4 separate regions of the Homo sapiens genome follow, and all the other regions are linked to region 2. The links come from fine-mapping of genetic effects on gene expression. A gene starts in region 2. Each other region holds a variant in brackets. All regions are shown on one strand. Distances are from middle to middle. Region 1 overlaps BBS4 (Bardet-Biedl syndrome 4). Region 2 holds the start of ADPGK (ADP dependent glucokinase). Region 3 overlaps BBS4 (Bardet-Biedl syndrome 4). Region 4 overlaps BBS4 (Bardet-Biedl syndrome 4).

Region 1 (2,652 bases), 57 kb after region 2:
GAGGGAAACAAGATGTAGATGAGAAACACGAAGACACATGCACAGTAATATGCCCTCGTGCAATACTTGACAGACCCCACTGAGCCTCTTCCTCCCCGTGGAAATACCTGAAGGCAATTTGGGAATTGCCATCAAAAGTAGGTCATCTCAACCCTGGTGATAAGGAGAACTGCTCAGCAAGAAAAATGAGGCTTAGAATTCAGATTCCTTTCTTAGGGTAAAAGTCCTAAGAAAGAACCTATAGAATGTTTTGCATGACTGTCTTGGTCACACTGATAAAATTAAAGAACAATGCTTTATAAACCAAGTCAGCCTAGAACACACACAGTTTCACCAGTCCTCTCTTGTGGAATTTTTTTTCTATCCTCATTGTGCTCACAATGCCAGGCAGCATAATTTTCTATGTAATTTAGGATCCCAAGGCCCCTAATGCTGTTCTCTCCACTTAAACAAAGAGCTATACCAAGTAGCCAAACTAAACAAAAGAAGGAAGATACATACCAATCCTAGGAAAGAAGGTGCTACTGACCTTTGGGAGTAAACACTGATGTAAGTAAAATACTCACATCAGGGATTGCCTGCTCAATCCCTCACTAGTATTTGTCTTTGTCACAAAACCAAGGCAACACTGAGTTGAGATGATCTGACCATAGGATCATCAGACAGTTTCAACAGTAAAACACCAAAGGGCTATGAACAATGTCTTCTGCTTCTAAGGAATGATATAGGGCACTGGTTACCTATAGGAAGACCTGAACCAGAAGATGCAAAGCCCCAGCCAGGGGAGGCCTGAGCTGACCAAACAGAGCTTTCTCAATTCAACTGGGAATCCGCCTTTCACTTTCTGCCATAATAAACATCCACTTTGATCACTTCCCTCCCCAAAGCCAGGTAACTTCTGTAATTCTAGCAATATTGGCTTCCCCACTACAACATGACTACTCTCTTCAAAGCTGTAGGTCATGAACAATGGTCTCTATCTTCTCAGTAAGGCTTCAGATTTTAGCTGTCCA[C/T]ATTTCTCCCTTAGGAAATTTAGTGACCAAAGTCCTTGATCAGTTACTGGAAGAATGTTCCCCTTGGGATTTATGTATGCTATTCTCAAAGAGCTAACCTCTAGAAGGCAGGGGTCAGGGATCAGGGCTACTACCTAGCACCACAGAGGCACTGAACATGTTACATGGCTCCTTACTACTTGCCCAAATATACAGCCTCTTGATGACAAAAGTCTGTTCTGTAGCTTAACAAACCAAGGGATTTTTCTGTTTTAGACACAAAATATGGTTGAAGAAAATTCAGAAAGCAGTGCTGTGACTGATATAACCAGAAAATTTACTACCATGGTAGAAGACAAAGATGATTAACAAATTAATAGAAATCTAAGTTTAGTTCAGAATCTAATTATTAGGAATAATAAGCCTTGAACCACAGACCAGACATTCTATTAAGGGACCAAACAAATGAGACAAGGCATTTTGCTACAGCTATCCCATTTAAAAGTAACAACACAAGGCTGGGCGCAGTGGTTCACGCCTGCAATCCCAGCACTATGGGAGACCAAGGCAAGCAGATCACTTGAGGCCAGGAATTCGAGACCAGCCTGACCAACATGGTGAAACCCTGTCTCTGCTAAAAATACAAACATTAGCCAGGGGTGGTGGCGTGCTCGTGCAGTCCCAGCTACTCAGGAGGCTGAGGCATGAGAATCGCTTGAACCCAGGAGGCAGAGGTTGCAGTGAGGCGAGATCGCGCCACTGCACTCACCCCTGGGCGACAGAGCGAGACTGTTGAAATAAATGAAAGGAAGGAAAGAAAGGAAGGAAGAAAGGAAGAAAAGAAAGAAACAAAGAAAGATGGGAATGGGAGGGAGGGAAAGGATGGAAAGAAAAGAGAGAAAAAGGAAGGAAGGGAGAGAGGGAGGGGAAAGGGGAAGGGAGATGGGAAAAGGGGAAAGGGGGAAGGGAAAGGAGGAAGGGGAAAGGGGGAAGGGGAAAGGGGGAAGGGGGATGGGGAAAGGGGGATGGGGAAAGGGGGATGGGGAAAGGGGGATGGGGAAAGGGGGATGGGGAAAGGGGGATGGGGAAAGGGGGATGGGGAAAGGGGGATGGGGGAAGGGGGATGGGGGAAGAGGGAAGGAGGAAGGGGAAGAGGAAGGGGGAAGGGGGAAGGGGGAAAGGGAAAGGGGGAAGAGAAAAGGGGGAAGGGAAAACGGGGAAAGGGAAGGGGAAAACGGGGAAGGGGAAGGGAAAATGGGGAAGGGGGAAAAAAGATACTGGTCTCATGCTAATAAGGCCAAATGTTTTGTTTTGTTTTGTTTTGTTTTTTACTGAATCAGGAGATTTCTGTCCCTAATAATATCTCTGAAAACAGAAGATCTGTTATTAACATATGATACCAAAATGGCAGACTGTCGGCCAACTCTTAAATCTGTTATTTCCTTCTTCTTGAGTGCATGTCTGCCCACTTCCCTTGTAACTATCATGTAGTTTTGAACCATGGAATGTAAGCAGGAACGATGTGTGCAATTTCTGGGTCATTTAAAACTTATTACCAAGGCCAGGTGCAGTGGCTCACACCTGTAATTCCAGCACTTTGGAAGGCTGAGGCAGGAGGATCGCTTGAGCCCAGAAGTTTAAGACCAGCCTGGGCAACACA
Region 2 (2,686 bases):
TTCATGGCTTCATAAAGATCTGACTGGCTCTTTGGCTTCTTTTCCAAGGTAGCCCAAATCTGTTCCTGTGTGAATATCTTTGTCGAAAGGGATGGCATGGTCAGGTAGGCTGGGTAGGATGAACTGCGGGAAGGTAGATGACCAGGATGGGGAAGTTCTGATGAGGTGGGGCTGAGGAGAATGAAGACTAATGCCCAAGATCAAAGTTAGGGAAATAAAGTTTCGCTGCCAAGTCCAAAGGTCAGGGTCACAGTGGAAAACTGGACACAAAGCCAAGGTCAGGAGCCGAGAGAATTGGAAAAGTGGAAACAAACCAGGGAACAAGACTAGGCCGGGCATTGTGGCTGATGAGAATGAGCTGGTACCCAGCCTAGCTTCACTGTCTCTCAACCTAGCCTCATGCACAGAAAAGTATCAGCGAAGAGAGGGCTGGGTTTAAGTGATGTCACCAAGGGGGAACAAAAGAAAGCAGCGTTTCTCAACCCAGGTCCATAACTCTCGTGTTGTGCACAAGATTGTGTACATTTTCCAGAGTTTGTTAAAGGGAACAGCGCCCCCAAAAGGGTTAAAGTTTGATTGTGGAATAATCTGGTTATCCAGAAGAGAACGATCTCTGCGGGCTCTCCTGTCTCGACGAAGTCCTTTAGTGGCTGAGGGTCTCGGCCACCTTCCAAAGGGGCGGAATCCCCCTGCCTCGCGTACCCCAGGGGTCTCGGCAGCGCCGCTATTCTGTGAGCCTATTCCTCTCAGAAGCGCCGAGCACTAGGCCTGGAAGAGGACAAGTCTAGCAAATGAGGGGACACGGGCGGAGGGAGGGATTAAAAGATGGGGGTGTGATCCGTGCCAATGGGGACACCCACTGGTTCGAATATTAACGCGAGGTTTGTCCGCTTCTTCACAATCTGTCCGTTTCGTTTTACTGCGAAAGCAAATGTGTTCCCATCCCTCTATTTGGGGATACGATTAGAGTTCCGGGAAGGGGGTGCAGCGCCCGGACTGGCACAACCGCCGTTGTCCCACCTCCTCCGGGGCGGCAACACCGCAGTGCCAGGCCTGGGACTGAGGCGTGGGGTCCCCCCTCGCTCCGTCCTGGCGCCGCCCGTCGCCCCGCCCCTTGGGGGGCCCCGTGGCGCACCCTTGTGACGTAGCGCTTGTGTCGACATCGGCGCGCGCCGAGCCCGGAAGAGGCGCGGGCTAGGAAAGGAGTTGGTTCGCGCAGGTGCGGCGCCTGGGTCCCCATGGCGCTGTGGCGCGGCTCCGCGTACGCGGGCTTCCTGGCGCTGGCCGTGGGCTGCGTCTTCCTGCTGGAGCCAGAGCTGCCAGGCTCGGCGCTGCGCTCTCTCTGGAGCTCGCTGTGTCTGGGGCCCGCGCCTGCGCCCCCGGGACCCGTCTCCCCCGAGGGCCGGTTGGCGGCAGCCTGGGACGCGCTTATCGTGCGGCCAGTCCGGCGCTGGCGCCGCGTGGCAGTGGGGTGAGTGCCAACGGGGCCTGGGTCTCTGAGCCTCCGAGGTCGGCCTTGGAGGTCGGGCGGAGCCGCGCAGAAACAGGGCTTCTCAGAGGTCCCCGGGAGGCGCTGCTGTCCGCGCTGGCCCCTTGGCGAGAAGTGTCGGACGTCTGAGTGGAACCCGGTTCGTCACCGCTGCTCTTTCCACTCGGCTGGCCTCTGCGCCTTTCTCTCATCCCGGTAGGACCAGCCCTAACAGCTTCTTGCTAATCCCGCTTTGTCTGACACCTTTCTCCGAGCCTTCTTCCTCGTTCCAACTTTTAGCCCCTTCTCTTCTGGCGACTGTTGTTTTGCAATCAAAGATACTTGACCTTACCCACTATGACAACACTCTTCCTCTTTCTTCTGAACTTCTTGAAGACGCGTGATGTCTGCCTTTACCCACTTTCGAAACGCCGTGTAGTCTAGAAACCACACGACTGTACTGCAACTCCTCTCAGATTTGCCTTTTTGAATCTTCATTATCTACTCTGCAGCCTTCCACGCATTGAACACGCCCTTCTCCGTGAAATTCTTTTCTTCCCCTGACTTCAGTGACACTGCATATTTAAGGTTCTTCCAAATGACACTACCTCCTTTCTTTGTACTTTTCCTTGGGAATGTAATTATTTTCTTTATAGTATTGATACTGTAAACACTAACTTTAGTCCCTGTCTCAGTTCGATTTGACTTTCTTGCCGTAATCTCAGAGTTATGTATAACCACCACATAAAAGCAGGCCCTCTACCATGTAGCTCACTACTTTCTGTGGAGTGTTGGGGCCGGGAGGGGTAAAGTAGAGCAAACTTGGCCTGAAGATTAAATGACATCATTCATGTAATCTCTCTAGCATAGTGCCTGCTTTAAAAAGCATTCGATATTAGCTATAATTTTGGGGTTTTTTTTTTTTTTTTTTTTTGGACACAGGGTCTCTCTCTCTGTCGCCTAGGCTGGAGTGCAGTGGTGCAATCACTGCTCACTGCAGCCTCGAACTCCCGAGCTCAAGAGATCCTTCTGCCTCAGCCTCTGGAGTAGCTGGGACGACAGGCAAGCACCACCACGCCCAGCCAATTTTTTATTTATTTTATTTTTTTTAGTAGAGTCGAGGTCTTGCTATATTGCCCAGGCTGGTCTCGAACTCCTGAGCTCAAGCCAGCCTCCCATCTTGGCCTCCCAAAGTGCTGGGATTAAATTGTCCTTCCT
Region 3 (2,671 bases), 53 kb after region 2:
TTCTATTTCTTCAAGCTCCAGGACAGTAATCCAGATTCCTACAGGATCTCTAAGGGAATGGCTCCTATGAGACAGCCACTGATCTTCTATGATTCTAATCCATTTTTCCCTCATTACAGATGGCAGAGAGAGTTTTCCACATAAATGTTTCTTACCTGCCAAGAGCATGTAGAGCTCCCCCATCTTTGGCTGGAAGTTGATGGCCGCACTGAGAAAATGAAAAGCTGATGCATACTGCTGCATGGTCAAATGGACAAGGCCCAAATTATACAGAATCTTCCAATCAAAGGGTGCCAAGTAGTTGGCTCGTTTCAGGCAGCTGATGGCCTATGAGAGAGAAGGGGCACTCAATGAGAAGGGCAAGCTAAACAGACCCAATAACCACATGTAGAAATACAAACAAAGAACATGAGGGGACACTCACCGCCACATATTTCTTCTTGCCAAAGAAACACATTCCAATGTTATTCCAGAGTGGAGGACTTTCTGGAACAGCACAAGCCACAACTCTGTATTTGGTGAGGGCAACATCAAAGTCCCCGTGGGTCTGCATCATGCTGCCTGCTGCCAAGATGGCCTGAAAACATGGCACAGAGAAAGTCATTCAGTCATTCCCAAAAGGCTGTAGCAGTGGGGCAGCTTTCCTGAGTCTATACTCAGCAGGCCCATCAGCATAGATGGGACTGGAAAATTTCTTCCAGGGACATAAATATATCCAACCTATTGGGACAAATGTTCCTGAGGAATGTCCTTGCACTCTACACTGTGGCTCTCTGGCACAGCACAAAAAAAAAAAAAAAAAAAAAAAAAAAAAAAGATAAAATGTTACTTGCTTTACCCATCTGTTTCCTACTTCTAGCCAGGAAAGTCAGTATTTCAGAATGAATACCAGAGCCCTTTAAGTAAAAACTTCCTTTAATCTGTTCTCTGCAGCCCCTATTTGGTATACCAAGTGTTCTAGATACCTGAAATACACCTGTACGTGGCTACTTAAGGTAAATTTCTTTCTACCGTAGAACAGAGGGCGAGTCAGCTTTAGGCTTCATCAGCCCAGCCCTTTCATTTCTCTAAGGAAAGGTATCAAGGTGGGAGCTGACAGTCTAATGTTACTTCCTAAATCAGAATTCAGTTTGTATCCTTTAATAAACAGCTTGTCTTGCTGCATCTCCTCAATGATGTTCATCCATTTGATGCTATTCCTTCTCATTCCCAAAGTCACATCTAGAAAAAAAGTTGTAGTATCAAATCATTAGGACTCTAGAAGTCATTTCAACATAATTATTGTTTCTTTTTAGAGACAGGGTCTCTGTCACCCAGGCTGGAGTA[T/C]AGTGGTGCCATCATAGCCCACTGTAGACTCAAACTCCTGGGCTCAAGTGATCTTCCCTCTTCCACCTTCCGAGTGGCTAGGACTACAGGTGTGTGCCACCATGCCTGGATAATTTTTTTTGTAGAAATGGGGGTCTCACTATGTGGCCCAGCCTGGTCTTGAACTCCTGGCCTCAAGTGATCCTCCTGCCTCAGCATTCCAAAGTGCTGGGATTACAGGCATAAGCCACCATGCCCAGCAGATTTATTTTTTTTATTTTTTATTTTTTTTTTTTTTGAGACAGAGTCTCGCTCTGTCACCCAGGCTGGAGTGCAGTGGCGCGTGATCTCAGCTCACTGCAAGCTCTGCCTCCCGGGTTCACGCCATTCTCCTGCCTCAGCCTCCCGAGGAGCTGGGACTACAGGCGCCCGCCACCACGCCCGGCTAATTTTTTTGTATTTTTAGTAGAGACGGGGTTTCACTGTGTTAGCCAGGATGGTCTCGATCTCCTGACCTCGTGATCTGCCCACCTCAGCCTCCCAAAGTGCTGGGATTACAGGCGTGAGCCACCGCGCCGGGCCGCAGATTTATTTTTGACAATAGTTGTGGAGGCATTGCTAATTTCCTAAGTAACACATAAGCTTTACTAGCACTATGATCTGCCTTCTGCAGGGGTTACACGTCTATTATAACAAATGTGCACTTTTAGAAGATAAGTAGAGCATACTTGACACTATTTTCAAATAAGAAGAGCCACCTTTTATTTATATTTTTTCTATTTCTCAGGTATCCAAATTTAAGAAGCTATTCCTTTGCTTTCCAGGGTCAGATCACCTCTAGGAGCAGTGGGACCGTCTATATGAAGGCCAGAGCCTTCACAGCCTGTAATACCTTGTAGTTGGTAGGGTCATAAGTCAGTGCATTGCCAAGATGTTCAAATGCCTTCTGGTAAATGCCGAGCTTGGAAAAAAAGCAAACAAGACAATTTACATCAGCAAGGAGACGGCAGTTAAAAGAGTCTGGCCAGACCAGGCGTGGTGGCTAATGCCTATAATCCCAGCACTTTGGGAGGCTAAGGTGGGTGGATCACCTGAGGTCAGGAGTTCGAGACCAGCCTGACCAACATGGAGAAACCCCATCTCTACTAAAAATACAAAATTACCCAGGCATGGTGGCACATGCCTGTAATCCCAGCTACTTGGGAGGCTGAGGCAGGAGAATCGCTTGAACCCAGGAGGCAGAGGTTGCAGTGAGCCGAGATCACGCCATTGCACTCTAGCCTAGGCAAAAAGAGTGAAACTCCGTCTCCAAAAAAAAAAAAAAAAAAACAGTCTGGCCAACCTCACCCAGAACAGAAATGCTCTG
Region 4 (2,686 bases), 82 kb after region 2:
GGAAGAGGAAGAGACTGGGCTGAGTCAGTATTGACTCAAGAATACATGCTAGAAGCTGGCCTATAATTTTTTAATTATATTGCTGCTATCCAGTTTGTTTGCTTCTCATTAGCTTGAAATGAGGAAGAAAAAAGTCATATAAAAGATTAGCTAATTATGGTTTTACTTTATAGCTTAGATTATTTTATTTCCTCAAAGCAAAATTTAACAATTATATCCTTCTTAAGGGTGTGTGTGCATGTATCTCAAAGTTTTTCTCTCTTATTATTCCACTGAATAGTCACGTAAGGCCAGTGAGTTATGCAATTCAGAGAACATTCTCACATTATAAAGGAGGAAATTAAGGCCCTAAAGGTTAAGTAAATTGTCCACATTCAACAAGTAGTTAATGGAAGAGGCAGGACTATAACCCAGGTCTCCAAGGTGACACATTAAACCAAGTTTCTGCCCAATCATAAAGGATTTTCTAATATTACAATGTAAATGTTTGGGCTGTCAATTAGACATAACTGAGCAACGCAACATTAATGATTTTAAAGCGGCCAGGCACAGTGGCTCACGCCTGTAATCCCAGCACTTTGGGAGGCCGAGGCAGGCAGATCACGAGGTCAAGAGATTGAGACCATCCTGGCCAACATGGTGAAACCCCATCTCTATTAAAAATACAAAAAAAAAAAAAAATTAGCTGGGCCTGGTGGCACACACCTGTAGTCCCAGCTACTTGGGAGGCTGAGGCAGGAGAATTGCTTGAATCCGGGAGGCAAAGGTTGTGGTGAGCGGAAATCGCACCACTGCACTCCAGCCTGGCGACAGAGCAAGACTCCGTCTCAAAAAAATAATAATGATTTTAAAGCTTTTCTATTATTTTTTTTAAAACCAGTGTTTTTCATATATCAAAGTAGGAAGACTTTCAAATGATTTTTAAAAATAACTAGTTGGTTTTCTTAAAAATACATACTTACAGTAAAACAAAATTCAAAGGGCACATAGGATACTAAACAAAAGACCCATTCCATTCCTATCCCTTACCAGAGGTGAAGCATTTCTTGAGTATTTTCAAGGAATTTCTATGCACATATAAGCATATGAGCAAGTGTGTGTGTGTGCGTTTGTACACCTTTATTTTACACATGGGGATTATATTGACCGCATTTTAAAAATTGCTTGCTAGTATTCACTGAGCCTAAATATATCCTTCCTGGTGACCCTGAAAATCCTACTCCTAAGTATGTATGTGTACCAAAAAACATGTACAAGACTCTTCATGGTGGCATTATTCATAATACATCACAATAAAAATATCCCAAATGTTCATCAAGTATAAAATGAATAGACTTAGGTAGAGCCCCACAATGGAATATATATAACAAGGAAGAAAACAACCAACCACTACTACATGCAACAACATAAATGAATCTCACAAACATAATTCTGAGCAACGAAGTTAGATATTAAAAAGTACACACTGCATGATTCCATTTACATTAAATTCAAAAGCAGGCAAAACTGATGTAGAAGATAGAAGTTAAATACAAGTTACTACCTTTGGGA[G/C]GGGTGGTTAATGACTGGTAGGGAATAAGGAGGCGGCCTGGAGGGCACTGATAATATTCTATACCTTAATCTAGATGGTGATTACATGGATATGTTTACTTTGTAAAAATTCACTGCACAGTACAATTATGATTTATGTATGTACTTTTCTGTATATATATTTCAATAGAAAGATATCAAAAATTACTGATTGAGCCAAATTAGACATTTTCTAAAACCAAAAAATTAATTTCTGCAATATTAATGCAGAAAAGGGAGAGGACACACAACTCAGTCTGGGGTAAGGATCAAGATTTCCTAGACAAGACAGAGAAGGCATTAATAACAAAAGAAAAATAATAGTAAATTGGCCTTCATCAAAATTAAAACTTTTGATCATCAAAAGATACCTTAATAAAATGAAAGTAGTAAAACACAGGCTGGGGGGAAATACTTACCACATATATAACAGACAAAGGACGTACATTCAGAATATATTAAGAAGTCTCACAAATCAATAATAAGGAAAAAAGAAATTTAAAAATAGGCAAAAAACTTGAGCAGACACTACACAAAAGATATGACCAATAAGTATATGAAAAGGTGTTCAACATCACTAGTCATTAGTGTAATGCAAATTAAAATCACAATAAAACACAATATACCCACCAGCAAGTCTAATATGAAAAAGACTGATAGTAACAAATGTTGGCAAGAATGTAGCCAAACAGAATCCTCACACGTTGCTGGCGGTCGGGTAAAACTGTACAACCACTTTGGAAAATACTTCGGCAGTTTATTATAAAGTTAAAACAAACAGTTCACATATGACCAAGCAATTCCACTCCCTAGGCACTTATTCAAGTGAAAACTTGCACACACATGCACACACAAAAAAAACCAGTAAATAAATGTTCAGGCCGGGTGCAGTGGCTCATGCCTGTAATCCCAGCACTATGGGAGGCTGAGGCGGGCGGATCATGAGGTAAGGAATTCAAGACCAGCCTGGCTAATATGGTGAAATCCCGTCTCTACTAAAAATAGAAAAATTAGCCGGGCATGGTGGCACACACCTATAGTCCCAGCTACTCAGGAGGCTGAAGCTGAAGAATCGATTGAACCCAGGAGGCGGAGGTTACAGTGAGCTGAGATCGCA

What was found. PIP is the estimated chance that this variant, and not a neighbour inherited with it, causes the effect.
Region 1: its variant is the best candidate, but not a certain one, in a credible set for the expression of ADPGK in whole blood (TOPMed, PIP 0.56).
Region 3: its variant is the best candidate, but not a certain one, in a credible set for the expression of ADPGK in blood mononuclear cells (TOPMed, PIP 0.70).
Region 4: its variant is the best candidate, but not a certain one, in a credible set for the expression of ADPGK in whole blood (INTERVAL, PIP 0.82).

The regions. Positions count from the first base shown.
Region 1 is chr15:72,725,268-72,727,919 of GRCh38, reverse strand. All of the region lies in intron 8 of BBS4 (Bardet-Biedl syndrome 4), which reads right to left. Among named protein-coding and RNA genes, the nearest start is that of BBS4, 40 kb to the right of the region's middle. The variant C/T (reference allele first, on the strand shown) is at 1,014.
Region 2 is chr15:72,782,244-72,784,929 of GRCh38, reverse strand. ADPGK (ADP dependent glucokinase) reads left to right here and starts at 1,172. Exons shown (of 7, transcript NM_001365225.1): 1 at 1,172-1,471. The coding sequence starts at 1,239. ADPGK-AS1 (ADPGK antisense RNA 1) reads right to left here and starts at 2,095. Exons shown (of 3, transcript NR_040107.1): 1 at 1-2,095. RefSeq lists enhancers at 647-856, 907-966, 1,727-1,796 and a silencer at 1,017-1,476.
Region 3 is chr15:72,729,211-72,731,881 of GRCh38, reverse strand. It overlaps BBS4 (Bardet-Biedl syndrome 4), which reads right to left. Exons shown (of 16, transcript NM_033028.5): 10 at 2,198-2,266; 11 at 425-577; 12 at 156-327. Among named protein-coding and RNA genes, the nearest start is that of BBS4, 44 kb to the right of the region's middle. The variant T/C (reference allele first, on the strand shown) is at 1,327.
Region 4 is chr15:72,700,000-72,702,685 of GRCh38, reverse strand. All of the region lies in intron 2 of BBS4 (Bardet-Biedl syndrome 4), which reads right to left. Among named protein-coding and RNA genes, the nearest start is that of BBS4, 15 kb to the right of the region's middle. The variant G/C (reference allele first, on the strand shown) is at 1,552.